Regions from separate parts of the Homo sapiens genome. Here region 1 is linked to region 2. The links come from fine-mapping of genetic effects on gene expression. A gene starts in region 2. The other region holds a variant in brackets. All regions are shown on one strand. Distances are from middle to middle. Region 1 overlaps TOM1L1 (target of myb1 like 1 membrane trafficking protein). Region 2 holds the start of COX11 (cytochrome c oxidase copper chaperone COX11).

What was found. PIP is the estimated chance that this variant, and not a neighbour inherited with it, causes the effect.
Region 1: its variant is the best candidate, but not a certain one, in a credible set for the expression of COX11 in whole blood (INTERVAL, PIP 0.84).

Annotation. Positions count from the first base shown.
Region 1 is chr17:54,942,253-54,945,172 of GRCh38, reverse strand. All of the region lies in intron 11 of TOM1L1 (target of myb1 like 1 membrane trafficking protein), which reads right to left. Among named protein-coding and RNA genes, the nearest start is that of COX11, 25 kb to the left of the region's middle. The variant C/ACACC (reference allele first, on the strand shown) is at 1,732.
Region 2 is chr17:54,967,268-54,970,187 of GRCh38, reverse strand. COX11 (cytochrome c oxidase copper chaperone COX11) reads left to right here and starts at 1,534. Exons shown (of 4, transcript NM_004375.5): 1 at 1,534-1,907. The coding sequence starts at 1,542. It overlaps STXBP4 (syntaxin binding protein 4), which reads right to left and starts at 1,423. Exons shown (of 18, transcript NM_178509.6): 1 at 1,373-1,423. RefSeq lists enhancers at 1,106-1,155, 1,236-1,335, 566-1,514, 1,516-1,595, 1,606-1,665 and 1 more.

The DNA.
Region 1 (2,920 bases), 25 kb after region 2:
CATACAGGAAAAAGCCAGGTGAAGGTACAGGCAAGAATTGGAGTGACATGACCAAAAGCTAAGAAATCCAAGGAGTACCCACAAGTCATTGGAATCTGGAAGAGGCAGGGAACAGATGTCCCCGTAATAGTTGTGGAGGGAGTGTGACTCTGCTGAATTTCAGACCTCTTGCCTCCAGAACTGTGAGATAATAAATTTCTGTGGTTTTAAACCACCCAGTTTGCAGTCATTTGTTATGACAGCCCCAGGAAACTAATACATTCAGCCAACCCCCAAGAGAAAGAAACAAAAGAAATCCATACCCCACATATTGTAATCAAACTGTTCAAAATTGGATAAAAAGAAAAATTATTTAAAGCAGACAGAACCACAATACATTATCTATAGAAGAACTGCAACTCCGATGAATGTAGATTTTTCACTAGAAACCATTTAGGCTAGAAAGAGTGGCACAGCCTTTTAAAACTGCTGAAAGAATAGAAGCATGAGCCCCATATTCTGTAGTCACTGATAATATCCTTCAGGAACAGACAAAATAGAGGCATTCTCACATGAAGTAAAACTAAGAGACTTCACTGTCAATAGACCTGCTTTAAAAGAACTGATAAAGAAAATTCTTCAGAGAGAAGGGAAATTATACCAGAAGAGAATAGTAAGAGAAATGGTAAACATTGGGTAAATATAATAGACTATTTTTCTCTTCTTGAATTTTTTTTTTTTTTTGAGATAGAGTCTTGCTGTGTCGCCCAGGCTGGAGTGCAGTGGCACGATCTTGGCTCACTGCAACCTCCGCCTCCTGGGTTCAGTCAATTCTCATGCCTCAGCCTCCCGAGTAGCTGGGATTACAGATGCGCACCACCACGCCCGGCTAATTTTTTCTATTTTTTGGTAGAGATGGGGTTTCACCATTTTGGCCACGCTGGTCTCAAACTCCTGGCCTCAAGTGATCCACCCACCTCGTCCTCCCAAAGTGTTGGGATTACAGGCATGAGCCACCACGCCCGGCCACTTCTTGAATTCTTTGCAATATATCTCAGGGTTGTAAGCAAAAATTACAGCATCATCTGTTAGTGGTTTCTTTTCAATGTATAGAGGAGTAATATATAAGATAACTATTATAGAAAAGGGGAATCTATATGGTGATAAGGTTTTTACTTCCTTTTATTTATTTATGTATTTATTTATTTATTTATTTGAGACAGAGTCTCTTTCTGTCACTCAGGCTGGAGTGCAGTGGCTGTAATCTCGGCTCACTGCAACCTCCGCCTCCCGGGTTCAAGTGATTCCCCTGCCTTAGTCTCTGAGTAGCTGGGATTACAGGTGCCTGCCACCACGCCCAGCTAATTTTTTGTATTTGTAGTAGAGACAGGGTTTCACCGTATTAGCTAGGATGGTCTCGATCTCCTGATCTCATGATCTGCCCGCCTCAGCCTCCCAAAATGCTGGGATTACAGGTGTGAGCCACTGCGCCCGGCCCAGGTTTTTACTTTCAAGTAGTAAAGCATTGATTTTAGGTAGACTGAAAAATAAGTATACTGCAATCACTAAAGCAAACTCTCTTTATATATATGTGTGTGTGTACATGTATATATAAACATATATACATATATATATTTTGCTAACAAAATTAGCAAAATAACAGGAAAAGAATCAGCTACTTTAAACCACATTATTTACCAAGCAACTTTATTTCACACACACACACACACACACACACACACACACACACAC[C/ACACC]ATTATACAAAGATACAGTCAAAATCACAATAAACTAAAATGGAGCACTAAAAATATTCTAATAATCCAAAAGAAAGCAGGAAAAAGGAAACAGAAAAAAAGGAACACATAGAATAACTATATAACAGTAGACCTAAACTCTACATACAATTAAATTAAATGTAAATTGCCTAACATATCAATTAAAAGAGATTATGAGAATATATAAAAATGCATGAACCAACTATAGGCTATTTCTAAGAAACTCCTAATCTTTTAGTACAGTTAAGTTACAAGTAAAATGCAGAAGAAAATATACCAGGCAACCACTAAACAAAAGAAAGCTAGAGTGGCTATATTACTATCAAAATCAACATCAGGACAAAGAAAATTATGAGGGACAAAGAAGGACATTACATAATGATAAAAGACTCAATCAACCAATAAGATCCAACATAGCCGAATGCATGAGCTTCAAAACACATAAAGCAAATACCAACTTAATACAATCTCTTCTAGAAAGATGATATATTGTATAATTCTACTTGAATGACATTCTCAAAGACAAACTATAGCAATAGAGAATAAACTCCTGGCTGCTGGGGATTGAGGGTCAGGGGTACAAGGGTGTGACTATAAAGGAATAGCACACGGCAGTTTTGCTGAGTGACGGAACTATTCTGTATCCTGACTGGGGGTAGTTATTTGAATCTATACGTATGTTAAAATAAATAAAACTGTACACCAAACCAAAACAAAAAAGGTCAATTTTAGTATATGAAAATTTTAGAAATAAAATTAAAGTACAAAACTAAAAACAAAAAGAGAGAAGTTACTGAAATCAGAATTTGATTTTGAATCCCATTTAAATTTGAATCCTGTCTCAGTACTAGCTGGACAACCACTGGCAAGTTAATCTTCCTCAGCCTTGGTTTCCTCTTGTTTAAAATGAAAATGATGGTGGCACATACCTCATAGGTTAAGTAATTAGTAAGCATTTCTATACTTCTTAGCTTGTTGCCTGTTAGTAAATGGGTCATAAATATGGCCTATGAGCCGGGCACAGTGGCTCATGCCTGTAATCCCAGCACTTCAGGAAGCCGAGGTGGGCAGATCACCGTAGGTCAGGAGTTTGAGACCACAGCCTGGCCAACATGGTAAAACCAGGTCTCTACTAAAAATACAAAAAAAAAAAAAAATTAGATGGGTG
Region 2 (2,920 bases):
AGGCCTTTGTTACCTGTTCTGACCCCATTTCCTACCACTTTCCACTCTGCTATGTTGGGAACACAGTGGCCTTCTTTCTGTTCTTCAATCATTCTATCTCTTTCCTTCCCCTGGGCCTTTGCTTGGCCTGGAATTGTTATTGAGTAGGTAGCTCCTTATCATCGTTCAGATCTAAACTCAAATGTCACCTCTTCAAAACGTCCTTACTTTACTACCGCTTCTCATGACTGTCAATCATACTATGTTATTACATTGTCTTCACTGCACTGATTGTTATCTGAAATTCCCTTATTTCGGTAACTGTTACTTGATTATTTTCTGAGTCCCTCAGCAGAAAGGACACTCCATCACTGAAGTGATCTCCCGACTTGTTCTGTGCTATAGTGCCAGCAGGTCGATTGGTGTCAGGCCCACAGTTGAGAGGGCAATAAATAAATAAAATGTCGAATGACTAGTTAAAATTTCTCAGGCCTCCAAGTTCCTCATCCACATAGTGGGGATAATTATACCTGCTCTGGCCATTAGAAATGGCCACGTAGCAAGTAGAAATACAGCCTAACTTTTAACTACATTCTTACTATGCCTCAGTCATCATGAAAGACGTTATATGAATATTATTCATTTACTGTTCTGATTTCCATTTTACAAGTAAGGACACCAGGTCTTAGAGGACAAGTAACTGACCTAAGGGCACAGGGCCATGGTGAGGACCCGGGTAAAAATCCAGAACCCCCTAACCTCAGAACCTGAGCTCTTAACTGCTATTTTATAGTTTCTAGAAAGATGCTTCCTTCTAACACAGTAAAATCCGCTATGCTGTCTGCCCCCCTCGAGTTCGTCCTGTGGGACAACTGAAGAAAGCTATTACATCCTCCCACGGGGTTCGTTTCTTTCAGTCTCTCCTTAAATGGCCCTCCTATCCTGGTCACTCTCTCCAGAACAAACTTCAGCGTGACAGCCTCCCTCCTGCTCCAGCTGTGGTGCTTTCCACTGGGCAAGTTGTAAGGGGCATCAGAGCAGGGGAAGCCGACTGCCCACGGGCTGAGAAAATGCAGGTGTCGTGGGTGCCCATGAGGGCTGCGGTTAACACAGCAAGGCTTCCTGAGAGAGGTGATACTTGAACTAAGTCCAGGGCAGTGAGCACAGGAGCCAGCGGCCAAGGGACCCCAGGAGAAAAGACCGCGGGAGAGCGTCGCCGGGGCTGCCGGGTCGAGACAAAGGCTGGTGGAGTTTAAATAAAGATCACAGGCGCAACCCCAAGTGATGGCAAGCTTGCACGCGGACGGGCGAAACGCATTTTCCTAAATGTTAAGAGACGTTCTGGCGAGAAGCGAAGTGGGAGTAACAGTCACAAAGCAAAACGCAAACTTACCCGTAATCTGGCAACCCGGCCTCCGTAGCCCGACTGCAAGCGCTGCCACCTGAGGAGCCTGGTAGCCAAGGCAGCGGCAGGCTCAACCCAGATCTCGCGAGACGGAGCACGCCTCGCGAGATTTGACCTCTCGTCCCTGAGAGGCGGGTGGGTGTTAGTTCAGAGGGTTATGGGAGGGCTCTGGCGTCCTGGATGGAGGTGCGTTCCTTTCTGTGGCTGGCGCTGGATCCACCCTGGGTCTCCAACCAGGGCTGCAGAGAGGGTAGAGCCGTTTCTTAGGCCAGAGTGGAGTGGGACAGGAGGTGCCGAGAGAGGACTGAGGTGGCTTGGGACATGGAAGCGCTGCAGCCTTCGAGCCCGGCATCCAGCATTGCAGCCGCCGCGGCGGCCTAAGAGCTCGAACCCTTTCACACGCGCGCAGGAGGAGGAGCGGCGGCGGCAGAACAAGACGACCCTCACTTACGTGGCCGCTGTCGCCGTGGGCATGCTGGGGGCGTCCTACGCTGCCGTACCCCTTTATCGGCTCTATTGCCAGGTAGGGGCCGGCGCCGCCCGCAGGGTGGCGCAGACGCGAGAGGTGGGGGTGCAAGACAAATCCCGGGACAAGCCCTCGCTCTGCGGGTCGTAGGTGGAAGAGGTTTCCGATATTATCTACCTAAGAGGAGAGAGGTTCAAAACAGTCACTTAACACCCAAAGTCACCAAAGAAATTGGTGACAAAACTGCAAGTAGCATCCAGTTCTTAGTGATTGTGCTTATACCATGCTGCAGAGTGAAACCCCTGATCTATGAACTGCACCTCGCCAAAAAAAAAAAAAAAGGTCCGCAGCCTCTAACCGGGTATCTAGCAGTCTGCCTTACCCTCCTGCGCACACACGCTTTTAAAATGTATTATTCATACATTCACTCTGCAAACCACATGTGGTTTATGTGCCAAGGGTAACTCTGGAAATTGGACTACTCGTGTTTCTTGGGCTTAAACTGGGATTAGCAGTTCCTCCGTACAAAGAGGCATGAATTAGGCCTTTGAGGCTCTCTCGCCCCACCCCTGTTAATATATAACTGTAATGTACTTAACCTGGAAACTGTTAAGTACATTGCAACGGTTCTGGGAGTGTGGCGCCCAGGACCGGCAGCATCAGCATCACCCGGGAACCTGTTAAAAGTGCAAATTCTAGGGCCCGACTCCAGGACTGAGTCAGAAACACGGGGTGGGGGGGTGGGGCGGGGAGAAGAAGGGGAGTGGGACCAGCACTCTATATTTTAGTTAAGTCCTGTAGTTGATTTTGAGGGCAAGTTTTGAGAACCACAGGCAAAGACAAGTTTCACGTATTTTAGAGATTTCTCCTTTGTTCTTAGCTAATAATTTGCAGCTTTGGCTGGCCATTAGGATCACCTATGGAGCTTAACGTTAAATACACGTTCCAGGGATCCCCTACCCCAGAGATTCTGGTTAGGAAGTCTAGGGTAGGGACAGGAATTTCGGTTTAAAAATCATGCCACAAGTGATTCAGTAAGTGTTTAAGATAGTGGCTCCCAAAATTCATTG